Linked DNA regions of Homo sapiens: regions 1, 2, 3, 4, 6 and 7 are each linked to region 5. The links come from fine-mapping of genetic effects on gene expression. A gene starts in region 5. Each other region holds a variant in brackets. All regions are shown on one strand. Distances are from middle to middle.

Evidence for each region.
Region 1: its variant is fine-mapped to the expression of NSMF in follicular helper T cells (Schmiedel 2018, PIP 0.95).
Region 2: its variant is fine-mapped to the expression of NSMF in whole blood (TOPMed, PIP above 0.99).
Region 3: its variant is fine-mapped to the expression of NSMF in whole blood (TOPMed, PIP 0.99).
Region 4: its variant is fine-mapped to the expression of NSMF in whole blood (INTERVAL, PIP above 0.99).
Region 6: its variant is fine-mapped to the expression of NSMF in whole blood (TOPMed, PIP above 0.99).
Region 7: its variant is fine-mapped to the expression of NSMF in whole blood (TOPMed, PIP above 0.99).

What each region holds. Positions count from the first base shown.
Region 1 is chr9:137,239,352-137,243,411 of GRCh38, forward strand. It overlaps TUBB4B (tubulin beta 4B class IVb), which reads left to right and starts at 1,936. Exons shown (of 4, transcript NM_006088.6): 1 at 1,936-2,066; 2 at 2,370-2,478; 3 at 2,560-2,670; 4 at 3,145-4,060. The coding sequence starts at 2,010. RefSeq lists silencers at 961-1,780, 2,111-2,340. The variant C/A (reference allele first, on the strand shown) is at 1,981.
Region 2 is chr9:137,381,455-137,385,514 of GRCh38, forward strand. It overlaps EXD3 (exonuclease 3'-5' domain containing 3), which reads right to left. Exons shown (of 22, transcript NM_017820.5): 3 at 1,859-1,923. Among named protein-coding and RNA genes, the nearest start is that of EXD3, 40 kb to the right of the region's middle. The variant C/T (reference allele first, on the strand shown) is at 1,920.
Region 3 is chr9:137,390,895-137,394,954 of GRCh38, forward strand. The region is part of intron 2 of EXD3 (exonuclease 3'-5' domain containing 3); the gene reads right to left. Among named protein-coding and RNA genes, the nearest start is that of EXD3, 30 kb to the right of the region's middle. The variant T/C (reference allele first, on the strand shown) is at 1,620.
Region 4 is chr9:137,435,754-137,439,813 of GRCh38, forward strand. It overlaps ENTPD8 (ectonucleoside triphosphate diphosphohydrolase 8), which reads right to left. Exons shown (of 10, transcript NM_001033113.2): 2 at 2,407-2,552; 3 at 2,214-2,331; 4 at 1,406-1,556; 5 at 1,116-1,275; 6 at 768-998; 7 at 260-523; 8 at 1-76. The coding sequence starts at 2,532. Among named protein-coding and RNA genes, the nearest start is that of ENTPD8, 3.6 kb to the right of the region's middle. RefSeq lists silencers at 292-546, 508-557. The variant A/G (reference allele first, on the strand shown) is at 2,273.
Region 5 is chr9:137,457,147-137,461,206 of GRCh38, forward strand. It overlaps NSMF (NMDA receptor synaptonuclear signaling and neuronal migration factor), which reads right to left and starts at 2,188. Exons shown (of 16, transcript NM_001130969.3): 1 at 1,886-2,188; 2 at 1,342-1,403; 3 at 261-755. The coding sequence starts at 1,956. PNPLA7 (patatin like domain 7, lysophospholipase) reads right to left here. Exons shown (of 35, transcript NM_001098537.3): 34 at 3,488-3,591; 35 at 2,806-3,330. The coding sequence ends at 3,247. RefSeq lists enhancers at 372-1,069, 3,893-4,060 and silencers at 1,709-1,978, 2,069-2,418.
Region 6 is chr9:137,419,848-137,423,907 of GRCh38, forward strand. EXD3 (exonuclease 3'-5' domain containing 3) reads right to left here and starts at 3,315. Exons shown (of 22, transcript NM_017820.5): 1 at 3,267-3,315. It overlaps NOXA1 (NADPH oxidase activator 1), which reads left to right and starts at 3,546. Exons shown (of 14, transcript NM_001256067.2): 1 at 3,546-3,859. The coding sequence starts at 3,683. It also overlaps the pseudogene LOC124902354. RefSeq lists silencers at 2,907-3,046, 3,057-3,196, 3,217-3,776. The variant A/G (reference allele first, on the strand shown) is at 2,130.
Region 7 is chr9:137,497,028-137,501,087 of GRCh38, forward strand. It overlaps PNPLA7 (patatin like domain 7, lysophospholipase), which reads right to left. Exons shown (of 35, transcript NM_001098537.3): 16 at 3,664-3,869; 17 at 1,087-1,218; 18 at 160-283. Among named protein-coding and RNA genes, the nearest start is that of NSMF, 40 kb to the left of the region's middle. The variant T/C (reference allele first, on the strand shown) is at 2,448.

The sequences.
Region 1 (4,060 bases), 220 kb before region 5:
GTGGCTCATGCCTGTAATCCCAGCACTTTGGGAGGCCGAGGCGAATGAATCACAAGGTCAGTTCCAGACCAGCCTGGCCAAGATGGTGAAACCCCATCTCTATTAAAAATACAGAAATTAGCCGGGCGTGGTGGCGGGCGCCTGTAATCCCAGCTACTCGGGAGGCTGAGGCAGGAGAATCGCTTGAACCCGGGAGATGGAGGTTGCAGTGAGCCGAGATCATGCCACTGCACTCCAGCCTGAGCGACGGAGCCAGACTCTGTCTCAAAAAAAAAAAAAAAAAAAAATAGCCAGGCGTGGTGGTGCACACCTGTAGTTCCAGCTACTTGGGAAGGTGAGGCAGGCGAATTGCTTGAACCGGGGAGGCAGAGGTTGCAGCGAGCTGAGATTGCGCCACTGCACTCCAGCCTAGGCGACAAGAGCAAAACTCCATCTCAAAAAAAAAAGAAAAAAGCTACAAAAATGTAGAAGGCACGGCGGCTCATTCCCGTAAATCCGAGCACTTGGGGAGGCCGAGGCGGGCGGATCACTTGAGGTCAGGAGTTTCAGACCAGCTTGGCCAACATGGTGAAATCCCATTTCTACCAAAAATACAAAAATTAGCGGCGTGGTGGTGGGTGCCTGCAGTCCCACCTACTGGGGAGGCTGAGGCAGAAGAATCGCTTGAACCTGGGGGGGGGCGGGGAGCCAAGATCGCGCCACTGCACTCCAGCCCGGGAGACAGAGCGAGACTCTGTCTCAGAATAATAAATTAAGTAAAATAAAAATGCTGCAAAAATACAGCCCGTTTGTTTTTAAACAGGCGCAACCACATGTAATTCATTTTAAGTTTCTTTTCCCACCCAAGTAAAAATCAAGTCATAAATTAGGAAAAGCATTAACAGAAGTATGTTTCAGCCCCAGCGCGCTGACCTGTGGTTGGAATACCGGCCCTGGAGCCCGGAGGTCGGGGCCCACCCGCCGAGGGAGGTCTGGGCGCTGTCCTGGTCTCCACGGAGCTCGCGCACTCACGGGGCCGAGGCACCAAGGCGACCGGCGCAGAGCCAGCGCCGTCTCCACAACAGGGCAGGGCGCGCAGCTGCGGGGGAGGCCTCGCCCCTCCGCTCCCCTCCCCTGCCCTCCGCCCCGGCCCTCGGGGCGCGGCGTCCCCCACGTGCTCCCCTCACGCGACCGCGAGGGCAGTGGGCGTGCGGCACCCGGGAGCAGGAAACTCCGTGGCCTCTGCGGCTCTGTGGAGAGCTCCCCTCCACCGCCGCAGCCCCCGAGCCCGTGTATCTTCCTGCCTTTAAGGCATCGCAGCCTCCTCGGCCTGGAGGCCCCGGGCTCGCTCCGTGCGGACCCCGCTCCAGAACCCGCCCAGCGCGCAGATGCCGTGTCCCGGCGCAAGGCCAGAGAGGGCGCAACTCTGGACGTGGGGCCGCCACCGAGCCTGCCCTTCCCGGCTCCCGAAAGGCCCCGGGCTCAGAGCCAAGACTGCGCTTGCCCGAGGCCCGTCGGGCCCGCCCTCCCTCGGCGCCCCCAGCGCAGCTGCCCGCCGCCCGACCGGAAGCCCGCACTCGCGCCTGCGCCCCACCCCGTCCGCGCGCCGGCCGCGGCACTGCGGCGGTTACCAGGACGCTGAAGCAGCGCAGCCAATAGCGCCAGCCTGGCGGCGTGCTCCCGGCAGCCAGCCAATGAGACGGCAAATCAATCATTTGAAACACCCAATGGACGGAGCACTGCGGCGCCAGGAGGGGGATTGTGATAGGGAGATAGGAGGCTGCGGCTGACCAATAAAGACCAAACTGGCTTAAAAAGGCGGACCTTAGGCAGCTTGATTGACGGGGGCAAGGCCAATCAAACGAGGGAGCTTGCCAGCCTCGTTCTGGCAGCCCATTCCGAGACTAGCGGAGGCGGGCAGGGAGGGTATATAAGCGTTGGCGGAGCGTCGGTTGTAGCACTCTGCGCGCCCGCTCTTCTGCTGCTGTTTGTCTACTTCCT[C/A]CTGCTTCCCCGCCGCCGCCGCCGCCATCATGAGGGAAATCGTGCACTTGCAGGCCGGGCAGTGCGGCAACCAAATCGGCGCCAAGGTAAGTTGCCGGGGCGCTGGGGCCAGGCGGGCCTGCCGGGCGGTGTGGGCGGGCGGCCGGGGAAGATGGCGGCAGCAGCGGCCGGGCGGCGCCCCCGCATTGCGGCCGCCGGGCCCCCTCCGCGGGGAATTGGCCGAGCCGGGCGACCGAAGCCCCCAGGAACCCGGCGGCCAGGGCGCGCGGGGCGGGGGAGGGGCGGGGAGGGCCGGGCTGCCGCGCCCGTCCGGGGCGGGGCTGCCTCCCTGCGCACCGGCCGCGGTGACTCAGCCCCGGCCCGCCCGGGCCCGCCCGCGTCCCTTGTAGTTTTGGGAGGTGATCAGCGATGAGCACGGCATCGACCCCACGGGCACCTACCACGGGGACAGCGACCTGCAGCTGGAACGCATCAACGTGTACTACAATGAGGCCACCGGTGAGGCCCCGGCCCCTTCCCCGACCGCCCTCCGGGGACCCCGCGGCCCCTGCCTTGGCTGACGCCCTCCCGTCCCCGCAGGCGGCAAGTACGTGCCCCGCGCCGTGCTCGTGGATCTGGAGCCCGGCACCATGGACTCCGTGCGCTCGGGGCCCTTCGGGCAGATCTTCCGGCCGGACAACTTCGTTTTCGGTGAGCCGTGGCTGGGGACTGGGCGGCGGCTCAAAGGTCAAGGGGCTGCTCCAAGGGCACCGCCGTGGGAACTGCGCAGCCGGGGCCCCTGGACGCCCTCCTCTTCTCTGAGCCACTCAATCCCCTCTACTAAATCGGCTTTGGGAGCAAGGTCCAGCTGTCTGCCGAGGCGAGGAGCCGCCACACACGTAATCTCCCTGCAGGGAGCTGAGCTGGGGCAGTGGCTGTTCCTCTGTCCTTGGGAATTGGCAGTGGCCCCCCCGGGGAGGGGTTTGTTAAGCTGTCAGGTTTGGCCCCTGACTTAATTCGTAGCAGGGCAGGCTGCCGTCTTTTGGCTTTGAAGGGTCCGTTTGCTCTACCTCCAGGGTGAATTCTGTGGTCAGCTCACACCATGTCACTCGGCTTTTTTCGCATGGCGGTGACCAGTAGTGCTGTCTACCTGGCTGACAAATGATTAGCTGTGTTCTCTCACAGGTCAGAGTGGTGCTGGGAACAACTGGGCCAAGGGGCACTACACAGAAGGCGCGGAGCTGGTGGACTCGGTGCTGGATGTTGTGAGAAAGGAGGCTGAGAGCTGTGACTGCCTGCAGGGTTTCCAGCTGACCCACTCCCTGGGTGGGGGGACTGGGTCTGGGATGGGTACCCTCCTCATCAGCAAGATCCGGGAGGAGTACCCAGACAGGATCATGAACACGTTTAGTGTGGTGCCTTCGCCCAAAGTGTCAGACACAGTGGTGGAGCCCTACAACGCCACCCTCTCAGTCCACCAGCTCGTAGAAAACACAGACGAGACCTACTGCATTGATAACGAAGCTCTCTACGACATTTGCTTCAGAACCCTAAAGCTGACCACGCCCACCTATGGTGACCTGAACCACCTGGTGTCTGCTACCATGAGTGGGGTCACCACCTGCCTGCGCTTCCCAGGCCAGCTCAATGCTGACCTGCGGAAGCTGGCTGTGAACATGGTCCCGTTTCCCCGGCTGCACTTCTTCATGCCCGGCTTTGCCCCACTGACCAGCCGGGGCAGCCAGCAGTACCGGGCGCTGACCGTGCCCGAGCTCACCCAGCAGATGTTTGATGCCAAGAACATGATGGCTGCCTGCGACCCCCGCCATGGCCGCTACCTGACGGTTGCCGCCGTGTTCAGGGGCCGCATGTCCATGAAGGAGGTGGATGAGCAAATGCTTAATGTCCAAAACAAAAACAGCAGCTATTTTGTTGAGTGGATCCCCAACAATGTGAAAACGGCTGTCTGTGACATCCCACCTCGGGGGCTAAAAATGTCCGCCACCTTCATTGGCAACAGCACGGCCATCCAGGAGCTGTTCAAGCGCATCTCCGAGCAGTTCACGGCCATGTTCCGGCGCAAGGCCTTCCTGCACTGGTA
Region 2 (4,060 bases), 76 kb before region 5:
CCACAGGCTGCTGGGCAGTGGGGCTGGGAAGGGCCCAATGAACCAGGGGAGCCCCACTCTGGGAGTGCGCCTACTCCAGGCCCTCACCCCGCCCCAGCCCTGCCTCCTCCTCCTGCCCGTCTCCCAGGCTGCTCTCACCCGCCCGGTGTGCTGGCTCCTCTCTCACGTTAGAGGAACACCTAAGCCCTCCCAGACGGCCAACAGTCCCATTGCCCCCTTTATACTGCAGACCGCCCCAAGGAGTTCTCCAAAATCCTGGTCTTCATCTCCCTCCTCTGGGGGCACCCGGCGTCTGTGCCACCATATGGGGGTCCCCAAGACCTCCATGTGCAGCCGGCTCTAGGGTTGGGCTTCTCCTCAGCACCCAGGACCCCCAAGGACCCCATCTTCAAGGCTCCTGGCCCACCCAGGGCCACTGGGCATGTGGCATTCGCCAGCTTGCTGGAATCCGGGAATGTGATGGAGGCGCGAGGAGGAGGTGAGAGCACGAGGAGGAGGTGAGGGCGCAGGGAGGAGGTGGGAGCACGCAGAGGAGGTGAGGACGCGGGGAGGAGGTGAGGACGCGGGGAGGAGGTGAGGGCGCGGGGAGGAGGTGAGGGCGCGCGGAGGAGGTGAGGGCGCGCGGTGGAGGTCAGGGCGGCGGTGGAGGTCAGGGCGGCGGTGGAGGTGAGGGCGCGGGGAGGAGGTGAGGGCGCGGGGAGGAGGTGGGAGCATGCGGAGGAGGTGAGGGCGCGCGGAGGAGGTGAGGGCACAGACACAGGCCCACCCCATGAAGATGAAATGCCTGACGGCCTCATGGCTGTCAGCGGAGCCCGGAGCAGATCTCAGCCCTGTCTGTGTATAAACAAGCGCTGCTCCAAGGAGACGCCAGGACGAATGTCAGGACATAGGGAGGAAAGGACAGTGGAATCCCACAACTCAGACACGTGGGGGGCGGGGGGCAGAGGGCGGGACCCGGGGAGGCTCACACCACACACGCAGGTGCCAAAGAGCGAGGAAGACTGAGCGTCACAGACGAAGGTCCGACAAGAGAGCCTGGAAATGGAACGGCAGAGGGAAATCTCAAAAGCAAGGACAGAGATTCACAAGCTGGAGGCCCAAGAAGCCACCGAGCTGATGGACAAACGAAAGCTGGCAGAGGTGGGTGCAGGAGAGAGGCAGACACAGGAGCAGGCAGCGCCAGGGCTGGGGTCAGAGGGCATCCCCCGGGCCTGCAGGGGTGACCTCAGGCCAGTGGATGTGGCACTCAGAGGAGCTGGGCTGGGGTTGGAGGGCGTCCCCCGGACCTGCAGGAGCGACCTCGGGCCAGAGGACGCGGCACTCAGGACTTGGCAGCTTCCTGTGCACAGGCCATTGCCACTAAGGAGCCGGAATCCGCGTCTGCCCCCACAGGGGGCCGGCCCTCCCTCTGTAGCCTCTCCCCTGGCCTCTCCCGCCCAGCCTCCTGCCCTGCTCAAGTCCCACCCCTTCCTAAGGCCTCCCTGTCCTGGACACCTGCCCCAGTGGCCACCCGGGCCTGGGTGCTCTGGCGGTGGCAGGACGGGGCCTCAGGCCTGGCAGTGCTGGCGACAGCTGTGTCCCTGCAGGTGAGTGGCCCCTGCGCCTCCCAGAGGTGACCTCAGAGGGGCTGCTGGGGCCAGGCAGTGCCTTTACCACCCTGGGGACTTGAGGAGGACCGCCCCCTGCCCCACACAGGCCACCCTGGAGGCGGTCTGGGGCAGCAGCTGTGCAGGACCCTGTGGCCGTGGGGGGCTGTGCAGCTTCCTGACCAGGGAGGCCTCCTGTTAGGCCAGTCTCTGCCCAACAGTCAGTTCTGCTGGCTGTGACTTGGCACGTGGTGGCTGCCACGTCCACTCACCTGCTTCCGCTCCCGCGTGGACCACAGGGTCTGCAGGGCCTGCAGGAGCAGGAGGGGGTCC[C/T]GGCCTGTGGAGATAAGATAACAGCCGTGGGAGGGAGAGGCAGGTGCAGGGGCTATCGCACAGCCCGCCGGGAAGTCCCTCCCACTGACCCGCAATGCCTGGGGCTCCTCTGGACCCGGGGGGCCGGGAACCCTCCCCCACCTCTGTCTGGCACACACACAACACACCTGCCAGCTGCGGCAGCACCCACCCTGTTCCTTCCCTGTGGCCCGTGGCCGCCCATCCAGCTGAGTCCGCCCAGCAGCACTTCAACCACGCTCAGCCCTGGGAGCTGGGCCTCATCTTTCAGCTGCAGGTGCAGAGCAGCCCTCGTGGGCCTGAGCCTCTACCTGCTCCGCCTGGCGCCCTCGGCAACCTCATCAGCATCTTCTCACCCAAACCCTGCACCGCAGTCCTGGCACCACGAGGACCCCAAGCCCCTGCCCTCTTTAGGTTTCGGTCCCCGGCCCTCCCGCGCCGCCCCCTCCCTCCAGCCCCGCCTGGGAGGCCCCCGACCTCACTGCAGCAAAAGTGCCAACCAAAGACGCTGCCCCACACGGACAGGGCCACCAGAGCGAGACCCGAGGGAGGTTTCCAGACAGAACCCAGGGGCTGCGTGGCTTGGCTTGGAGGCCGGTGGTGCAGGGGAGTGGAGACCCACTCAGGCCTGGTCATGTGGTAGGGTCAGGGTCGGAGGCCAGGGAGGGGCAGGTGCCAGCAGGGACTCCACAGGGGAGGCCTGAGGACAGGAGCCTGGGTGGATTCCGCAGTGAACTCCCCCTGGACCTGGGGGGCTGTGGAAGCTGCTGGGCCCCCCTGCAGGGCAGGACGGGAACAGGGAAGGCCCCGTGTTGCTGCGAGGGAGGCTGAGGACTCACATGAGATCAGATCAGACCTCAGCAGCTGGATTCTGCCACACACGCCAGAGAAGCGTGTGTGACGGGGGTCACCCCAGAGAGCCAGGCTGACTTAACAGGAGAGTCCAAGGTTATGATTCAGCCCAGGACCGGAACGGAGGAGAGAACCACGTGGCCCTTTCGGTAGACACAGAGCAAGTGTTCTAAAATTCAGTTCAGCTCACAATTTAAGAAATAACTCACCTGGGACGGGCAGGGAGCGCCCTGAACTGGGTAAAAGCCATGGGCGAGCGTGAGACGTGGTGCTCAGGGCAGCACGTAAGGATGCCACAGCCCGGCCTGGAGCCGTCCCAAGCAGGTGGCATCCAATGCAGAAGGAAAACAGAAACATCAGGACCGGCCGACAATGTGATTGATTACACAGAAAGCCACGAAGGATCAAAACTACGCCGTTAGAATTAACCAATGGGTTCGGCATCAATGCTCAGCACAAGCCAAAATGAGAAAATCAGCAATAAACAGAAATGGCCATTTCAAAAATCACTTACAACAGCATCAGCAATGTCAGATTCCCTGGGAGAAATGTAACAAAAGCAGCTCATGCAAAACAAAACCCAGCCGGCTGTCATCTCAGCACTTTGGGAGGCCGAGGCAGGTGGATCATTTGAGGTCAGGAGTTCGAGACCAGCCTGGCCAACGTGGTGAGACACTATCTCTACTAAAACTACAAAAGCTAGCTGGGCATGGTGGCGGGTGCCTGTAGTCCCAGCTACTCGGGAGGCTGAGGCAGGAGAACAGCATGAACCCGGGAGGCGGAGGTCGCAGTGAGCCGAGATCGGGCCACTGCACTCCAGCCTGGGCAACAGAGCGAGACTCCGTCTCAGACAAAAACCAAAAAACCATAAAACACCGTGGGGCGCCCAGGCTCCACCATGGCGTCTCTGCAGCCACCTGGGCCTGGGTGGCACAGGCCAGTGTTCCCGTCTGCGCTCAGAACCGTCCCACCATCGTGCACAGTGTGCTGCATACAGAGGCTGAGAACACTCAAATGTCCACTGTAGGAGGACGGAGCAAGTGCATCAGCCCCGGGACGATGCCCAGGTGGGGAGGACGTACCCCACCACGTGGCCATGGCAGGCAGTGTGACTGGCCCCGCATTCTGGGTGCTGCATGCTGGGCATGGCTGGCGATGGGGCCAGGGTGGGCTGGGCGGGGCGTGCTGTGGTGTGTTCACGATCATGTGCCGAGCCGCATCATGTGCTCTGCGTTCCTTCCTACACATGGGTTGCACTTCACAATAAACAA
Region 3 (4,060 bases), 66 kb before region 5:
GGGCAGGGGGTGAGGACACAGTGAGGGTGGCTCAGAGGCTGCCACAAAGTGCCTGTGACCTCGTCGTGGGACAGGGACAAGCCCGTCCCCAGGGTCCTGGAGGCAGATCTGGTGTCCACACCTCTGGGGGACCCATGGTGGGGCGGGGGTGGCCTGCTCGGCATGGAGAGGGGCAGGGCAGCCTCGGCAGCTTCTCCTTACCCCCCTCCCAGCAGGGCCTCGGCCGCCGCCCTTCCTCAGGTGTCCCCACGTCCACCCACAGCCACAGCCCACCAGTGAGGCCTGAGAGGGAGGCGTCTCCAGGAACCCGCACGTTCACGGTGCATTACGAGAGCGGCATGCGCTCATCACGGAGCTTCGTAGGAAAAGTGGCCTCTCCTGCGGGCCCTGCCCTGTTCACCGCCGTGTCCACACTGGGCGGGTGCCGAGGAACCCGTCTGGAGCGTGGACGCTGGATGTGAGGCTGGCCACGTCCCCAGCCCCAGGCACCTCAGCAGGCCCAAGCTGTAGGGCATGGGTCTCCTCCGGGAAGCCAGGGCAGCCTCAGCCTTGGAGGCTCCCATTGTCCGGAGCCCAGCAAGATGGGGAGGAGCGGCGGATGTGGAGGGAAAGGGAACCCAGGCCGGCAGGCTTCCTGGAGCTGCTGCATCTGCCAGAGGGCCGGCCTCCCCGCCCCACCCCACCGCCCGCCGGCCCTGGTGATTCCTGGAGCTGCTGCCTCTGCCAGAGGGCCGGCCTCCCTGCCCCGCCCCGCCCCGCCTCGCCGACCGCCGGCCCTGGTGCCCAGCTGCAGTTTAATGCCGTCTGTGGGACTCTGAATTTCCCAAGGAAGGCTCAAGCGCCGCCTGGAAACCCCGAACCAGGTGGACGTGGGCAACGTGGACTTTCTGACCTCAACTGCGCCTGCTCATGCAAAAGCTGAAGTTTTTTATTTTTTTTGAGATGGAGTCTCGCTCTGTTCCCCAGGCTGGAGTGCAATGACACAACCTCGGATAACTGTAACCTCCGCCTCCAGGGTTCAAGCAGTTCTACTGCCTCCAAGCCATTCTCCTGCCTCAGCCTCCCCAGTAGCTGGGAATACAGGCGCCCGCCACCATGTCCAGCTAATTTTTGTATTTTTAGTAGAGACGGGGTTTCACCATGTTGGCCAGGATGGTCTCGATCTTCTGACCTCGTGATCCTCCTGCCTCGGCCTCCCACAGTACTGGGATTACAGGCGTGAGCCACCATAATCCTGGCCGTGAGCCTGGCCAAGGCTGAAGTTTTAGGAGGAAAGGAATCTGTGAGCGCAGTGGACATTCGGATGGGAATGTTTCTTGGCCTCGGGGGAGGGAGAGAGGAACAGGAGCTCAGCCCCCTTCTCCTGTCCCGATGATGCCTCCTGACCCAGCGCGGGAGGGCCTCTCTAGAACACGCCAGAGGTGGCCATGTGGACTCTCCTCCAATGACCTGGACCAGGCACTCTACCTAAAAGGACAAACCCAGGCCTGGCTGTCGGGGGCAGGGTCCCAGGGGCCACAGACGCGGATGTCCTGCTCAGTGACCAGGGTGGCACGGACAGGTGTCCAGGCAGCGAGGCGGGGCCAGCACAGGGGCCAGGACACCTCCTGGGAAGAAGC[T/C]GACCCAGAGCCTGAGTAGGGGAGCCCACTGGGGAGGGCTGAGCTGGGGCCTCTTGTGGAGCTGGCCTTGTTGACAGAGCTGGACACGAACCATGTAAGGGCAGATGCCTAAAGCAGCACAGAAAGGATGGGGGGATGTGGCCATTCCAGGAAGCGCCAGGCTGTTCCAGGGGGTGCTGTGTCTGTTCTGGGGGGGCTGTGTCTGTTCCAGGAGCACCAGGCTGTTCCAGGGGGCACCGAGGCTGTTCCAGGGGGCACCGAGGCTGTTCCAGGGGGCATCGAGGCTGTTCTGTGGGGGGGCGCCGTGTCTGTTCCAGGGAGGGCCATTAGTGTTCCAGGGGGCACCGAGGCTGTTCCAGGGAGGACCATTAGTGTTCCAGCGGGCACCATGTCTGTTCTGGCGGGGGGCCGTATCTGTTCCAGGGAGGGCCATTAGTGTTCCAGGGGGTGCTGAGGCTGTTCCAGGGGGCACCGAGGCTGTTCTCGGTGGGGGTGCCGTGTCTGTTCCAGGGAGGGCCATTAGTGTTCCAGGGGGTGCTGAGGCTGTTCCAGGGGGCACCGAGGCTGTTCTCGGTGGGGGTGCCGTGTCTGTTCCAGGGAGGGCCATTAGTGTTCCAGGGGGCGCCGAGGCTGTTCCAGGGGCCCTGCTAGCTGGGGTGTTGCACTTTGAAAACATCCCACTCTGCTTAGGTGGAGAAGAGGCTGTAGAAGCCTGTGGGTGCCTGTGCAGGGAGAGTCAGCTCTGTGCTGAGGCGAACCCAGGGTCCCATGCGCTCCCCGGCCCTGACGGCGGTCTCCAGGGGAGGTAACAGGGCCTCATCCCACACAGGTGCAGGCCCGGGGCCCGCAGATGGCCTCAGAGGAGGCGGTGGATGAACGGAAGGGTGAGGGGGTCTGGGCCCATCCCCAGAGGGGCAGGTGTGTGGTCAGGGCCCCACAGGACAGCCAGGGTTGTGCCTGCTGAGGGGGCCACATCCACACCAAGCCCCGCCCAGCTCAGAGGTGGCCCCTCCCCGAGCACACGCTGACCTGGCTACATCAGGGAAGGCGACATGCCCGGAGGTGCCCCCACAGCCCTCAGCACCCACTGGGACACAGAAGAGGAAGGCAGAGAGGAAGCCCCTGGAGGGGTCCAAGGCCCGAGGAGGCAACTGCGTGGGATAGGGAAACTGAGGCAGAGAGCCTCAGCTGCTGCCATGTGGGAGCAGGGCTTTCACAGAGGGGAGGGCCATGGCCCTGCCCCATGGAGGGGCTGCCAGGCAGGGCATGTGTAGGGTGGAACTGGGCAAAGGCCAGGGGGCGGTGAGTGAAAAGGCAGTAAACCCACAACAAACTGAGGGCCTGCAGCCCAGGGCGAGGCGGCTGGGCCAGGGCCTTACAGCTCTCACTGCTGTTTACAAGGACTGCAGGGTGAAGGATGTGAAGGGGCCCCGGCACCCCCTTCTCACCCTCTGCCCACAAAGCCATGGCCCCGGACAGCTCCCACTGGGGCCGAGCCCCTGCCAGGAGGCTTCCCGCCCCAGCCCGTCCCCGGCACAGAGAGCAGCTGAGGCTCGGGCTGACCCCTCTGGCACTAGGCAGCTCCACTCCTTCCCAGCCGCCGCTTCCCTAACCCCAGCCTCCCAGCCTCCATTTCCCTAACCCTGGCCTCCCAGCCTCTGCTTCCCTAACCCCAGCCTCCCAGCCTCCGCTTCCCTAACCCCGGCCTCCCAGCCTCCGCTTCCCTAACCCCGGCCTCCCAGCCTCCGCTTCCCTAACCCCGGCCTCCCAGCCTCCGCTTCCCTAACCCCGGCCTCCCAGCCTCCGCTTCCCTAACCCCGGCCTCCCAGCCTCCGCTTCCCTAACCCCGGCCTCCCAGCCTCCGCTTCCCTAACCCCGGCCTCCCAGCCTCCGCTTCCCTAACCCCGGCCTCCCAGCCTCCGCTTCCCTAAGCCCGGCCTCCCAGCCTCCGCTTCCCTAACCCCGGCCTCCCAGCCTCCGCTTCCCTAACCCCGGCCTCCCAGCCTCCGCTTCCCTAACCCCGGCCTCCCAGCCTCCGCTTCCCTAATCCCGGCCTTCCAGCCTCCGCTTCCCTAACCCTGGCCCAGTCTTCAGCTTGCAGGGTCTCGATCTGTAGGAACAGGAGGGAGAGAGGCTGCACCTCCCCTCGGGCTGTTTATCCTCAGCACTGAATCTGGCAGGGCAGCCGAGCGAGCGGGGATGCGGCCTCCCCGGCTTTGCCCACAGGGAAGGTGCCTCTCATTTCTCTTTTTTAACCTGAAAAAGCTGCTGGGAGGGCAGATGTTCTTCTTAACTCGAAGGGATGAAAAATGCCTCAGTTTAAAAAACTAGGGACCCTGGAGGCCACCCTGGAACCGCCCGAGACCCAAGAGGCTGTGGGTTCCCTGAGCCCCCAGTGGCGGCGCTAAGCCCCCAAGGGTGTTCCGGGCCCTCCGCCTGGC
Region 4 (4,060 bases), 21 kb before region 5:
TGGCGTTGACCGTGCTCAGGGGCTGCCTGGAGGTGAGGTTCAGGAAGTGGAAGGTGTAGTAGAAGTTGGAGAAGGCCTGAGTGAGAGGGGAGGTGGCTGTGCCTTCGCTGTGGCCACGCTGGGCCAGATCCACCCCACCCGGGCTCCCAGAGCCCCTAAGAGCCAGCCTGGGCCCCTCCTGGGCCTGCTGGAGTCAGACAGGCACCTGAGGCCTCACAAGGAAGCCCGGACCCCTGGTGGGGGCAGTGTAGGTGCTCACATAGAACTGGCCCCGCAGCGGGGGCTGGTAGACCCCGTCAAAGGCGCAGTCCTCCTGGCCCTGGCAGCTGGAGAAGTTGAAAAGTTCCCGGATGGCTGAGACGCAGGCTCCAGGGTTGCCTGTCCCTTCAACTGTGAGGTTCTGGGGGAGGCTCAGCGGGGGCGTGGCGTGGACACAGGGTGACTCATACAGCGGGCCCAGGGCCAGTGTGGTCTGGTAGCCGCTGAGGTAGCACGGGTGACGGAGCAGGGCAGCCGGGCGGCTCTGCAGAGGGCAGGGAGGCCTGAGCACCAGCCGCACACCTGCGGCCCTGTGCCCCTCCCCGGGGCCGGATGACCCACGCCAGCCCCGCGCCCATACCCTGTGCGCCCTCCCCGGTGCCGGATGACCCACGCCAGCCCCGCGCCCATACCCTGTGCCCCCTCCCCGGGGCCGGATGACCCACGCCAGCCCTGTGCCCATAGCCCTGTTCCCACAGCCCCATGCACCCTCCCCAGGGCCAGCTGACCTGTACCAGCCCCACGAGGAGCCTGCTCAGCATCTGGTCCCGTCCAAAGCACAGGTAGCTGTGAGTGTAGACGCTGTAGTCGGAGCCGTAGAGGCGAAAATCGGCCTGGGTGCTCTTGTCCAAGATGGGGCCCCCAGGCACGAACGTGATCTGGGTGGAGGCCCCTCCCATGTCCAGGGCACCCACCAGCATCTCCTCCGGAGGCTGGATCCATTCTCCAGTGAAGGAGTACTGGGCACAGAAGGGGCCACTCAGCTGGGAGCAGCCACCCGGACCCCGTCCCGGTCAGCCAGCCCCAGACACCAGCCCCTCGCAGACCAGCCCCCGCCCTCAGGCAGCCTGTGGCACCTTGACCAGCGTCCCCAAGCCGTAGTTGACAGTGATCCAACCAAAGGCACCTTCGGCCTGCCCGGCCAGGAGCTCGGCACCCCAAAAGTCCACGGGAGACCGGCCCAGGACCTGGGTGACTGCTGCAAAGATGTCCCTGGCCTGAGAGCTGTTCTTCCGGCTGGGCACAGAGGACCAGGGGCTGGAGCTGGCTGGAAGCCTGGGCCCGGCCCCACCCTGCCTGCCACGCTGGCTGAGACCATGGCTTCTGCAGCCACTCCCCGTGGGTGCCAAGGCCATGCCTGCCTCACCTGAGCAACCTCATGCCAGCCGTGGCCCCCAGGAACGTGGGTGTTTTCCGATGCTGGGCCTCTGGGATCAGCACCAGCGCCTCCTCCAAGCAGCCCTGCAGGCTCTCACCAGCCTGTGCAGCATTAGAAGTGTAGGAGGAGATTCCAGGCCCTGGAACAGCAGCCGGGGACAGAGCTCCAGACCCCGCAGGCTGGCTGGGCTGAAAGGTAGCCCCCAAAGACATGACCACCTCATGCCCCCTGGTGCAGCCACCAGCCAAGGGCTGCGTGGAGTGCTCAGGCTGAAGGAAGCAGGAAGGACCCTAACCCAGAGCCTCTGGAGGGGGTGCGGCCCTGTCCACACCTTGTTTTCAGACTTCTAGAATGCTGAGAAATAAGCTGCTACTGTTTTAAGCCCCCAATTTGTGGTAATTTGTTACCAGAGCCCCCAGGAAACAAATTCGGGGCCTCCTGTTTTCCCCTCTCAGGATCCTGGAGTGCAGGCACCCCTGTAACTACCAGCCTCGGCTGCCAGCACCACGTGGTGCCAGGGTGGGGAGCACCAGGGGCCAGAGAGGGTCAGGGCTGGAGGCAGCAGATGCTGGGCAGACCCAGGCCAGGCCATGAGAATCTGACTGCTCACCAGGATCAGGCAGGGAGGTCCCCAGAGTGCCACCGCGTGAACGCAGGCTCCGGCCCAGCACCCATGCCCGGCGTGTGAGCTCAGCCAAGTCACTGAACCTCTCCAAACCCTTTCCGTGCAGCTGGGAATCCCAGCCAGGCAGCAACAGGCAGGTCCCAGCACCGGGCTGCAGAACAGCCCACTAACCTTCCACCTGGCAGGCCAGGGCCTGGCTGACCACACCCGTGCCATTCTCCTTGTTCGCC[A/G]GCCACTGATACAGGAAGAGGGACGTGTGGGAGGAGCCCGCATCAAACACGATCCCAAACTGGGGAGACAGTGGGATGAGTGGGAGGCAACACCTGTGGACCCGGCCCGGCCTCCCCTGCCGGCGGGGACGCACCTTGATGTCTGTGGGCAGGAGCACGCTGGTGGCCTCCACCAGGAGGAGAATGAGTGCCGTGAGGCCTGAGACCCCCGAGGCCCCCAGCAGGGCCAAGAAGACCTGCTCCTTCCGGGACAGCCCCATGGTGCAGGTGGTACTGGTTCCTGTGGGGGGACGGCCGTGGGCACCCAGGCTGCACTTGGTGTCCCCATCCCGCCCTCCAGAGGCAGAGGCTTCGCTCCCCGTCTCCCTGGAGACGCACCCCTGGACAGCCACTTGCCTTAGAGGCATCTCCGGGGCTCAGACGCCTCCCGTGGCCATAGAGGCATCCCCGGGGCTCAGACGGTCTCCCGTGGCCTTAGAGGCATCTCCGGGGCTCAGGCGGCCTCCCGTGGCCATAGAGGCATCTCCGGGGCTCAGACGGCCTCCCGTGGCCATAGAGGCATCCCCGGGGCTCAGACGGCCTCCCGTGGCCATAGAGGCATCCCCGGGGCTCAGACGGTCTCCCGTGGCCATAGAGGCATCCCCGGGGCTCAGACGCCTCCCGTGGCCAAGGACCACTCCCCAGGAGCCACGCCTGCCAGGGGTGCCATGGGCATCAGAGGGCCCTGTGGGAGGGGGGCGGGGGGCAGCAGAGGCCTCGTCTGGGGACACAGCCCCAGCAGGATCCAAGTAGCCCCCTCGGACCCCCTCGGATGGGACTCGCGGAGCTGCCCCCACCATGTGATGGGGCCACCCTGTGTCCCCACCCCTCGGTCCTGCCTCTCCCGTGCCACCCTCCCCAGGAGCAGCCACAGCTCCAGCCTGCACTGGGGGCCCAGGGCTCTGCCTCCTCTCTGCGGCCCCCACCCCAGGCACTCCTAGGGTGGGGGTTTCTCTCTGGAGCCCTGAGGGGACTGTTGCCGAGGGGCTGTGGGTGAACCCAGGGTGAGGCCAGCCATCCTAGGAAGCCGAGTGTGAGGCTTCTTAACAACATCGGTTTCTCTGGAAATCCAGCCCAAGGCTTCCCTAATCTGACTCTGCACCTTCTTAGCTGGTGCCAGATGGCGCCTGGTCGGGAGGTGGACCCAGGGATGCCATCTGAGGGGCCTGGGCTTCTCTAGCCCTGTGGCCGAGGTGTCCACCTCCTCCTCTGCCCAAACGCCCAGCAAGGGTCTCAGCTCTCAAACTACCCCAGGCCGACCCTGTGCCCCATACAGCCCCACTTCACACGGGTACCACTGCCAAAGGAGTGGTCAAAGCCAGAGGCTGCCTGCCAAGGTCCCGGCACCTGAACCCCATGTGACCGTGTCCTATCGTGTTCCCCCGGGAAACGTTGCACCCACACTGAGTGGCAGGCGCGGGTGCTGCCCTGGTCCTGACCTGGGGCTCCTGGGCACGTGGAAAGTGGGACACGCTGTGGGGTCCTCACGCAATTCTGTATGTCCGGGGGATATAAGCCCATTTTAAGGAGGGTAGATGACAGAGGCTCAGAGAGGACAGGAGGCCGGTCCAGCCCAGACAGGGCCCAGCCTGTGTCCCCAACCAGCACCCAGGCCATAGGCCACCTCATAGGGACAAACAGGTGACAGGGGCCAGGAACACAGGGACTCCACACCCAGAAGATGTAGCCACCTGAGACCCCCAGGCCTGAGCCTCCAGGTAGGCAAAGAGGTTGGGGCAACCTCTCCCA
Region 5 (4,060 bases):
ACTCCTTGATTGACCTGGTGCTAGCAGGGCGAAAGCGGACTGTGAGGCCTGGCAGATTTTGCTGAGGAGCTGAGGGAGCTCACAGCTCATAGGGTGTGGAGGCCGCAGCAGAAGCCTGCCGGTTTTAATCTTGAGTCCGCTGGCATGCTGTGACCTGAGCACCTGTTCTCTGTTCCAAGCCTCACAGTGGCTGCTGCTGTCAGACCCTGGCAGCGGCATGCACCCCCAAACCTGTCTATGCCCTGACACAAACCCCTCACCAGACACACGGTCAACGCTGTACATCCTCTCCAGCTTCTTGCGGCGACCGGAGGTCTCAGGCAGAGGTGGCTGGTCCAGCCCAAAGGCCCGAGGGGTGGGGCCAGGAGCCAGCTGGGCACATCCGGGGCACTCCTTGGAGCCCTGGCGGCTGCCCGCCCAGCTCTGGCAGGGCCTGCTGACGTCCTCCCGGCTGCCACCAGGGCTGGCGCGCAGGGGCTGGCTGTGATGGTGAGGGTGCCGCTGCCGCCGCCCCTTCACCACCGCCAGCTCAATGGCCTCCGCCTCAGGGCTGGGCAGCAGGGCAGGCTCCCCAGAGATGGTGTACACTCGAGGCTGAGGGCCCTCGCCTGCGGGCTTCCTAATGCTGGGCTCCTCTGAGAGGCTGCCCTCGTAGCAGCCGTTGGAGACGAGGGACAGGCGGCGCTTGTTCTGGGGGGCCGGCTGCATCTCGGGGGACCCGTCGTGGCCAGAGTAGGCATCAGCCAGCAGGTGATCTAGGAGAGACACTGAGTGAGCCTGCCTGCCGCGTGTGGGCCCCCCGCTGCCGGTTTCATAGCAGGCCGAAGGCAGAGAACACCCAGTGGGCACCTGGCCTCTGTGGGGGACTAGGGCTGCCCAAACCCTAGTCACTGGCGTGTTTCTGAGCCCCTCACTCCTATCTGGGCCTGAAGCTCTAGCATGTGCGTGGGGGCTGGGTGACGCTGTGCTACCTGTGTGCGGTCCTGCCGGGTAGGAACACGCAGGCCATCCCCCAGCCTGCGATCGCACCGTTTGCCTGGTGCCAACTTCCCCCTCCCCCCACCAGCTGGCCCCCAGAGGCAGTGGTGCCAGCCCTGGGGGAGCCAGGAGGCCTGTTGCCATGCCAACGGCCCAGGCGGGGTGGGTGCCATGGTGACGAGCGGCTGGGAACTGCTCCTGGGGCTCGGGCAGGGAGGGCAGGGGATGTAAGGAAGCCAGGCCGGCAGGGCGCCGGGCCCACGCGCAACCAATGCCCCTCACGCTCCACCCCCGGAGGCAGGGATCAGCATCCCTTGGGCTGGGGGGTCTGGGCGGCCCTGGCACGGCCTCGCGTGCCCCTACCTGCGCCGTTGCGGTTCTCAGGGTGACTCTGGGACAGGTACTCTCCAAACGCTCGGGCTGCTCTGAGGGTGGACAGAGGGCACGGTCAGAGGCCACGGCACGACCCTCCCAAACACCGGGCCGCGCAAGAGCCGGGGGTCCGGTCCCCAGCCAGGCCCTCGGCGTCTGGAAGGAGGGTCGGGGTCGTCCCCCTCCGGGAGCCCACACACCCTTGGTCCTGGTGCGCCCTGGCCAGGCCTGCAGGCCCGGCCCCTGCCCGTCGGACCGTGGAGAGGGGTCGCGAGGCCGGTCGGCTGCTGTTCCCCGGGGGAACCGAGGCCACTCCCGACCTGGGGGGTGCGCTCGCCCACCACGCGCTCGCGAGGGGAGGGGAGGGAAGAGCAGGGCAGGGGACCAGGAAGAGGGAGGCGCGGGGCGCGGGGAGGGCGCCTCAGTGGCAGAGGCCGGGGCCCGGGAGCCCGGGGAGCACCGCGGGGCAGGGGCGGACTCGGGCGGGGTCGGAGGTCCAGGGCGGGGTGCGGGAAGGCGGCCCCGCCGCACTCACCGCACTTTGGCCGCCACCGAGGACATGGCCTCGCTCCTCAGCGCCCTCCTCCTGGAGGCGGCGGCGCCCATGGTCGAGGCGGCGGCGCATCCCCCGGGCCTCAGAGCGCGCCCCGCGCCCGCCGCCTCCGCCGGGGTAGCCGCGCCGCACCGGGGGTCGCGCTCGGGCTCGGGCTCGGGGTCTCGCTCGGGCTCCGGCTCGGGCTTGGGCTCGGGGTCGGGCTCGGGGTCGGGCCCGGTCCCCGCATGGCCGCACCCGGCGCTCCGCGCGTGCCGCCGCTCCCGGGAGAGCGCTGCCCGAACCGAGGGCCGGCCCCGCCCATCGTGACGTCAGGGCCCGGGCGGGCCCAGAGGGGCGGTCGGCCCCACCTACCGTGACGTCAGGGCCCCGGAGAGCTCGGAGAGGACATGTGGCCCCGCCCACCGTGACGTCCGGGCCCGGGTTGAGTTGGGGGCGGGGCCGGGCGGCCTGGCTCCGCGCCCTCTCGTCCAGGCCTCCAGAGCGGGGAAACTGAGGCCAGCGGCCCCCTGGTCGCAAAGTCCTGGGCCCTCGGCCCTCACGATCTGCTGCTCAGACCTGCAGGATCACAGGGAGGCCGGTTCTCCCTCCCCTTACACAAAAGGGCTCCCTGTGCAGTTTGGGAACTGGAAACCGAAGGGGAAGCCAGTTTAGGGGGCACCCAGTTTGCACGAGGCCAGAGAGAGACAGAGGGGCCCGTCCTGGTCCTGGGGGGCCACAGCTCTATGCAGACTCTGGACGCCCTACCTGCCTGGCCTGCATTTGCCGCCCTAGGGCTCTCAGGCCCCAGCAGTGGGGTCCTTTGAGGAGGACTGGGGACTGCCCAGCCTCAGGGACCACCCGCATCAGGGAGAACCAGTAGTGTTTCTTTGCCACAGGGACCTCGGCCCGGGAGACACGTCCAACAGTGAGATCCACCTTTATTGAAACATCACACGGCAGCATCAGGGCTCCCACACCTCACAGGGCAGCAGGCAGTTCACAGGACAGCAGGCAGTTCACAGGGCTTTGGGGGCCTCACAGGGCAGCAGGTGGTTCACAGGGCTTCGGGGGGCCTCACAGGGCTTCGGGGGGCCTCACAGGGCTGCAGGGGGTTCACAGAGCTTCAGGGGCCTCACAGAGCTTCAGGGGCCTCACAGGACTGCAGGGGGGCTCACAGGGCCCTGTATGCAGGGCTGCTGGTACAAAGAAGAGGCCCAGAGAACCCTAACACAGCCTGGGGCCCCGGGGAAGTCAGGGCTTCCAGCAGGGCAGGTACAGAGGCCCCTAGGACTTGGCAGGAGCCTCAGCCTTGGGGACAGTCCCACGGAAGACGCTGCATCCGGGCTCTTTAGCAGAGGCCTCTACCCGTCCTGGTCAGAGGAGCCCTCAGACAGTTTTGGGAAAGCCAGACTGGGGTGTCGATGCCGCAGTGAGGACTCGTCCTCCTGCAAGCAGACCGCATGTTCCAGGTGAGGACCAGGCAGGGCAGGGGCTCTGCAGCGCTGGTAACCCGGTGGGACCACAGGGAGGGAGTGGCCGGCACAGGGCCAGGCACCAAGGCTCAGCTGTGGGCACCAGGTGGGACCATGCCCAGCTCCTCACCAAGTCTGAGCCCTGCTGGGCTGAGGTGCTCTGGAAGTCTGCGTATGCATCCCTGGGGACGTCCAGCAGCTCCTCCTCGTACTCCGTCTGGTAGTCAGATTCGTCTGGCACCGAGGGTAGGGCTGCGTCAGTCCCCTCCCAAGGAAGGGACCGTACCCAGCATAGCCACACTCAGAGGCAGAACCGGCCACAGATGCCCACCCCCGCCTCCAAGGTGGCCCGGGGCCCTACACGCAGCCACCTGGTCCCAGGGCAGCCCTGCACACCACCCCTGGTTCTGTCTGGCTCCAGCTTTGCCCCAGCACATCACTTCGTGGGTCTTCCACAAGGACAAGGAGCGGGCAGACACTCCTCCCCTTGTCAGCCAAGCACCCTGAGGGCTCCAGCACCCCAGACCTGGCAACTGTGGATAGGGGCTGCCTTGCCCAGGGCCCTCTCGGCCTGCGGCAGCCATGAAGACGTCTCCCAGGAGAATGTCCAGTTCTGCTGTGAGGAGGCCACTGGCTGAAGGCCCAAGCGCAGGGCCCTGGATGGAGCATGGAGGGTAGTGGACCCGCCCTTCTTGTCCTGCGG
Region 6 (4,060 bases), 37 kb before region 5:
TTGTTAACCCAACATCATACAGAAAAAAGCGGCCGGGCGCGGTGGCTCATGCCTGTAATCCCAGCACTTTGGGAGGCCAAGGCGGGCGGATCACGAGGTCAGGAGATCGAGACCATCCTGGCTAATACGGTGAAACCCCATCTCTACTAAAAATACAAAAAAATTAGCCGGGCATGGTGGCAGGTGCCTGTAGTCCCAGCTACTCGGGAGGCTGAGGCTGGTGAATGGCGTGAACCCGGGAGGCGGAGCTGGCAGTGAGCCGAGATTGTACCACTGCACTCCAGCCTGGGCGACAGAGGGAGACTCCGCCTAAAAAAAAAACAAAAAAAACCCCAGCAAATTACATAGAACTGAACTGATAGAGGCCTGAAATGCTTTTTATGATTTTTTGTTGTTATCGAAACCTTGCTGACTCTTTTTATATTTTGTTTTCCAGAGTCAGAAAACCTTTTTCTTTTTGAGCTATTTATAGCTATAGCAATTGAGTGACATATACTTTTGTGAGCAAAACTGAAATATTTGTCTTTTTCTCTACCTGATTTCTCAAAAATCTGGAAGCGATTCATGAGTATTCTTATTTTATGGCAATGTAGTTCTTTGCATGAGTTCAGTAAGAATCTGTTGTCCTTGTAACAGGACACAATTGGAGACCCTGGTTATTCTACCAAGGCTTGGACTGGGATGACGTATTTTTGGATATGACGAGACTGCTTTGAGGAATCGAGGTTCGCTTTATAGAGCCAATAAAAAGCCCCTTGGGATGACTGGACTGGTGCCCTGTTTACATAGTTCCCTTAAAAGGTTCTTGGCCTTGAGGTAAGGAAAGAATGTCACTTTCCGACAGATCCAGGAACTTCAAGATAGTTTGGGACCTGGAGGACAGACATTCACCCCCCCCCCCAAATTCATACAGGTATTATACATACACTGTGATGGGGAGCCACTGGCTTGGCTTCCTAGACATGGGAAGTGTTTGTTTTGTTTAGAGACAGGGTCTCGCTCTGTCACCCAGGCTGGAGTGCAGTGGTGCGATCATAGCTCACTGCAGCCTCAATCTCCTGGACTCAAGCGATCCTCCCATTTCAGCCTCCTGAGTAGCTGGGACTACAGGTGAGCACCACTATGCCCAGGTAATTTTTAAATTTTTTGTGGAGACAGGGACCTCGCTATGTTGCCCAGGTTGGTCTCAAACTCCTGGGCTCAATGAATCCTCCCACCTTGGCCTCCCAAAGTGCTGGGATTACAGGCATGAGCCACCATGCCCAGCCCTCAAGTGGCTTTTAAAGGTCTATTCTGACCCTCTTGTAGTTCATAAGCATGATGATTGCCTCATGTGTAGGGTCTGTCTCCTTCAAACGCTGTTATGACGCCAGCACATTACCTGTCTGATGTGGGGAAAAAAAGTCTGAAATTCCTTATGGCAAAGTTCCAGCCAGTTTAGAAAGGAGCCTATATGGCCAATCACCACTGTTGTACTTTAGGCAAATAATCAGGCCAAATATAATCCTAAAATTTATTTTACAAGTAAATTGGTCTTACCAAGATTTATCTTTGGTAGAAATGGGGAAGTAGAGAAAAATTATGTTTCAGAGAAAAACTACAGCATACCTGTTACTGGATTCTAGCCCTGATCATTGTATTTTTTATTTTCCTACAATCTGGACTAAATCCTGAACAATCTTCTGGCTACAAGTCTCAAAGAAGAACCTGGCTGGGCAGAGGTTCACACCTATAACCCCAGCACTTTGGGAGGCCCAGATGAGAGGATCACTTGGGCTCAGGAGTTCGAGACTAGCCTGGGCAAGGTGTCAAGACCTAGTCTCTACCAAAAAAATTTAAAATTAGCCGGTCCTGGTGGCAAACACCTGTATTCCCAGGTACTCAGGAGGCTAAGACAAGAGGATCATTTAAGCCCAAGAGTTCAAGGCTGCGATGAGTGGGAATCGTGCCTCTGCACTCCAGCATGGGTGACAGAGCAAGACCCCATTTCTAAGTAAACAAATAAATAAAAAGAAAGAAGAACATGGATTTTAGTTTCTTCATGTTTTTAGTTGTCTCCCTAATGGAACAGGTTTGTTTTTTTCATCCTGGCATACAAATTGGTTATAGTCCTATGTGTTACTTCTGAG[A/G]AAATTAAAATTAATGGTGTTTCTAAAAACTAGAGATGATTCAACAGGTGACAGCAGTTGTATAAATTAATGACTTCACTGAGACCTCATGTTTGCCACCCTGTAATGCCATTCCAATTCAGTTTGTGGTGTTCTTAAAAAAAAAAAAAAAAAAAAAACTCCCTGAAATGTCTCCTCCTTCCCTGCTTGGCATGGGACAGGACTATGTGGGAATGAGCCTTCCCAGCAAGAGGGGACACTCTGACCCTCAGATTTTGATAATCAATGCTTTCAAGAAGAAAGATTTTGATCAAAAGGGGGGCAAATGAGAAAGAAAAAAATCATTTATCTGAGGAATGTAAAGCCCTTTTAAACTGTGGGCCCAGAAAGCTTGATGTTAAGTGCCAGAAAGCATTTCAAATGAAACCGCAGCCCCTCACTACCCCTCGAGCCAAGTAACTATCCACTGATGACACCAAGCCGTGGTCAATCGCGAACCAATGCCATTTCTACAAGCCAGTGAGCTCCTGGGCAACGTTCGAAACCACCTGCTCTCCGATGGGCTCTGTTTTCTTTAAAAACCTGAGCCTCTGTTTTGTTCTCCGTTGCACCTGGTGACCCAGGCCGCCCTCGACCTCTGTGCCTGAATAAACCCACCGGGCACCACATTCTGACCCTTTTAATTATTTTAGGTTGACAACTAATACAGGACTCAGCGCCGGTGGACAGGAAGCCAGGGCCCCTGCAGGGAGGCGCCCGTCCCTTCTCCCGGGGAGGGCAGGGCGGGCGCGCGCGCGTCCCACCGGGAGCGCCTCCTCCTCGGCGAGGGAGCGAAGGGCCTCCGGGTCCTGTGATGTCCGTGCTCGGAAGGCGCGGAGGAGGGCAGGCCCTGCGGGACAGGGCGGCGGGGTCGCCGGGGTCGGCTCAGCTCCCCGCGGCGTCCGGCTGCTCGGCGGCCTCCGGAGCGGGGCCCTGCGGGAGAACGCACCTTCCCCGCCCCATCGGGGCCTCAGTTTCCCCACCCCGGGAGAGCCGGCGGCCCGCCCCCGGCTCACTCCCAGCTACGGCCCTCACCTCAGGACGCGCACCCGGCCCGGCCCCGCTCTGCCCCCGGCGCCCAGACCGCCCACCTGGCCCGCGCGGCCCGGGGTCGCTCACCTGCGGGGCCGGGACCGCCCCACACCGTCCACGCCCGGCGCGGAACCTTGGCCCGACCGCAGCCGCTGGCCCGGAGGGCTTTATCCGGCGCACCAAGGCCAGCGCGGGCGGGGCGAGGAAGCCGGGCGCACAAAGCTCCCGGCGGAAGTCCGGCCGGGGCGGGGGCCGAATGGGAGGTGGGCGAGGCCTGAGGGTCTGGAGTGGGCGTAGCCGTTTCTGGCGGGGGCGTGGCCTTACCGGGGAGGGGCGGGCGCCTGCCGCCAGGGGGCGCCGCGGGGCAGCGGGGTTGCACCTGGCGCTTGGCGCCCGCACCTCTGCCCGCCTCGGAGACCCCGCAGCCCCGCGCCGCCGCCTGGCCCCGGCCCCGGCCCCTCCGCGGGATCCTGGCCCCTCCTCGAGCGCCGCCACCGGCCGCCATGGCCTCTCTGGGGGACCTGGTGCGCGCCTGGCACCTGGGCGCGCAGGCTGTGGATCGTGGGGACTGGGCCCGCGCCTTGCACCTCTTCTCGGGCGTCCCGGCGCCGCCCGCCAGGCTGTGCTTCAACGCGGGCTGCGTGCACCTGCTGGCCGGGGACCCCGAGGCCGCGCTGCGGGTGAGCGGGGCGTGGGGAGGCCGGTGCGGGCGACGCCTCCGCCTCGAGCCCCTGGGGAGGGCCCAGCGCCCCTCCCCGACCGTCACGGGGTCGCCCTGCCGCCCCCGACCCAGCGAACGCCCCGGCAGGTGGGAGCCGAGCAGGGGGGCCGCACCTGAGCTAAGCGAGGCCGCGCTGGGGGGCGCGGCGGTCACCGGGAGA
Region 7 (4,060 bases), 40 kb after region 5:
CGGGGCTCACAGCAAAGCGGCTGCGGGGCATCACTACTACCATCCACTCCTGGGGCTTTTGCTCCCAAGTAACTGGCCAGGCCACACCCAGGCCAGAACCCAGGATGCTCTGGGAGGGATGCAGAGGTGGGGGAGGCAGGAGCAGGGCCCAGCACCTACCACGCCGACGAGGTCTCCTCGGCCGTACTCCCCGGCCAGGCGCTTCTTCCCATCATCCTTCCGGATCACAGAGCGCAGCCGGCCGCTGAGCATGATGTACGTGCAGTCGGACTTGTCCCCCTGCCTGCGGAAGACACAGAGGCCCTGCAGCCCTGGGCCCCCAGCCTCAGCCTCCACACCCAGCTTCCCAATGCCAGACAGACTCAGGATGGAGAAAAAGAAAATGCAGGCTTCTCACTATCTTATTTTTGTTTTGGAAAACATATTTTTTATTTTAAAATATTTATGTTAACAGGCCTGGGTTGTTTTAAATGAATATTCTAAAATTGTCTTGGTTTTAATTATTATTATTATTTTTTGAGACGGAGTCTCGCTCTGTCGCCCAGGCTGAAGTGCAGTGGCACGACCTCGGCTCACTGCAACCTCCACCTCCCAGGTTCATGTGATTCTCCTGCCTCAGCCTCCCAGGTAGCTGGGATTATAGGCGCACACCACCACGCCCAGCTAATTTTTGTATTTTTAACAGAGACAGGGTTTCACCCATGTTGGCAAGGCTGGTCTCAAACTCCTGACCTTGTGATCCACCCACCTTGGCCTCCCAAAGTGCTGGGATGACACGCGTGAGCCACCACGCCCAGCTAATGGGGCCCTTTTAAAGGGACGGTGTGGACTTGAATATAATGACACGGAGAGATGCTCATAGAACATGGACTATGTCCAAGCGTGTGTGGGTGTCATGAAATCCAGGAGGCCACGAAGTGTGTTTCCGAGCTAAGCTGGGGTGGGGCTGGGGAAATCCAGCCTTCCATGTGTGGTTTCCACAGTAACTTCCGTGTGTGGTTTCCACGGTAACCGTGCTTTGCCCATCCCCAGCTCCTGCATGCCAGGGCAGCATGGATGCGGAGTGTGTGGCACCCACGGCCTCACCTGTATATTGCTCGCCCGGCCTCCACCTCCACCCAGTCCAGGGCAAAGTCGATTTGCCGCACGAAGGACGACATCCTCTTCACCACAGTGTGCGCCACACCCAGGACGACGGTCGGCTGCTTCCGCATGATTCTGCCGGGCAGCCCAGAGTCAATCCTGCCCCATCCCTCCAACCCTACCCTTCGCCCAGGGCCGCAGTGCTCGGGAATGGATGGGACCCACAACCCCCACCCCACCCGGAAAGTAGAGAGACCACTGGCAGGGGCTGGGACGGGGCACGCACCAGTCAGCTGCCTGCCCCACGGCACAGCACTGCCCACCACGTGCCCAGTGGCCAGCAGCTGTTGGGGAGCCCAGAGAGCCCCCTCCTGGCAGGCCCGCGAGTGCCCCTTGGACACGGGCCCTGTGTCAGGCTGCGGTCCTGGCAGGGGACTGCACATGCCGTCAGGAGCTGCATAATGCACACTCGGGCCGTGGGTGTGGCTGGCAGTGAGTGCCGTGAAGGGCACCAGCAGGCAAAGGCAGAGGCTGAGAGACCCATGGGGCCTGGATAGCACAGGGTCTCTCCTGGGTGGGTGGAGGGTGGCTGGGGCCTCTGACCCGGGGAACACTGTTCTCTCCCCGGTGGTCGTGTGTGGACAGACTGTCGAGGGTGAGGGCTGCAGCAGGGACGTGCCCAGGGGCTCTGGGCAGTGGCGAGGTGGGACGTGGGGCAACCTGCACCAGGTGTGAGAGTGACGCCGGGCGACTCCAGGCCTAGCCTGAGCCACAGGCAGGTGGAGCTGCCATTTCCTCAGAAGGCAAAAGCAGGAGGAAGAGCAAACGTGGAATCAGGATCTGCTTTGCACAGGAGGTGGGGGAAGCTGGGGAGATGGCAAGACAGTGGCTGGGTGAGGGCGTGAAGGGCGTGAGCGTGGCACTTAGAGCCCTGGGGGTGGAGGAGGAGCCCTGGGATGCTGGCTGGGGTGACGGCTGCAAGGCACACCATGCACGGACACACAGGCAGACACACAGACACACACAGACACACGGAGACAGAGACACTCGCAGACACACGGACACACGGAGACACACGGACACAGGCAGACACACAGGCACACCGAGACACACACAGACACACAGACACACACAGACACAAGGAGACACACATGGACACATGTAGACACAGAGACAGACACACGGACACATGCAGACACATGGAGACACACAGAGACACACGCAGACACACGACACACGCAGACACACAGATAGACACACAGCACGGGGGGACTGAGCTGCATTAAGGCTGAGGGCCCTGAGCTCTGCCCTGGGTGGTTCCTGTCCCTGCTCTTCGCCATCCGTCCTGATCTCCCTGGCACTGA[T/C]GTGGAGCAGCTGGGGATGCTCAGGAGGGAGATGGGTCCAGCTCCACCCAGGGTCCCCTGCTGGTGGAGGGACCGGGACTTGGAGCCTCAGTCTCCCCATCAGCACGCTGCGGTGTCAGGGCACCCGGCATCGGGACCTGGCTGGAGCCACTCAGGCCAGGCCTGGAAGACAGAGGCCATGCAGAAAGCCCTTCCCAACTGGGCCAGGGCCCCGCTGCCCCCACCCCTGCCCCTTGCCCGGCTCGGGGTCCCCAGGCTGAAGCAGCAACGGCGCGGTGCCATTTGCTGGATTACAGGCGTGAGCCGCTGCACCCAGCCGACCTGTTTTCTTCAGCTGCTGTGCTTCCACTGACCTTCAGGCTTCTGACCTCTCCTGCTGCCCAACCACTCAGGCAGAAGAGCTCTGAGACCACAGCAGACATCTGGCCTATGAGGGTGCGGAGGACTTCCAGAAAACACACACAGAACGGCTCAAGCCACCAGAGGCGAGAGCTGGGGTTAAACTGAACCCCAGGCTCCAGGAGATTCTGGACCTGACAGAGCAGAATGCCCAGTGCCGTGGATGCAAAGACGTGGCGGCTCTGCCAGGCAGCCACAGGCGGGCCGAGGGCAGCTCTGGGCCTGGAGGGGCCAAATCTGAGACTTACGGGCTGGGGTCAAGTGGACAGATGTCTTCCAGCCCGGAGCCTGGAAGGCGACACGGGCACATTCTGCCCCAAGAAGGGACACACGTCAGTGGGGCTCCTCCCCCGAGCCAGAGACGCGTCCTCACCCACTGCCTTGCCCTTCCACCTCCGCATCACTGGCTCCCGACACGTCAGCCCAGGCTGCAGAGGTGGGACGGCTCACGGCCCCTGAAGCCCGGCCCTGCCCCAACGTGGGCCTTGCTGAGCCAAGCTGGGGAGCCCCAGAACTGACCAGTGATAAATGGACACGGCTGAGACCAGACCACAGACCAGTGATAAATGGACACAGCTGGGACCAGACCACAGAGACGGCCGTGCGAAGCTGATCGCTGCGGGCAGGTGGGGTCGGCTGACTGAGCGCTGGAGCAGGGGGCACAGACCTGGGCCCACACAGGTGCCGGGGACAAAGAGGGGAGCCCGAGAAGCAGGGAAGAGGGTGAGAGCACCAGGAAGAGGCCGGCCACGCGGGGAGGGGTCTCAGGGCAGGGGGGGCTGGGGCCCGCCCTGAGGTCCTGGCCCGTGGGACTCACTCATAGAAGTGGGCCTTGGAGATGGACAGGAAGCTGCAGTCCCTGTTGGCCTTGACGGTGAAGATGAGAGGCTCCCCGGTGAGCACGGCCAGCTGGCCCACCATCTCCCCGGGGCGCGTGAGGAACAAGCAGGTGTCCTCCTGGCTGCCGATCTTCCGCTGGTACACGTGCAGCAGCCCCGAGACCACGAACAGGATGCTGGCGTCCTGACACACGAGAGGGCTCAGGAGGCGCCGCGAGTGGCCGCGGGCAGGACGGGGGCAGCTCTGGGCCCAGAGCGGACGATGCCACCAGGCTCAGCCGGGAGACCATCCGCCGACCTGATCAGCTCTGGGCATGGACTTCACTGGAAACATTTCGGCAGCGTCTACGGTTTCATGATTTCACGAGCAGTCGT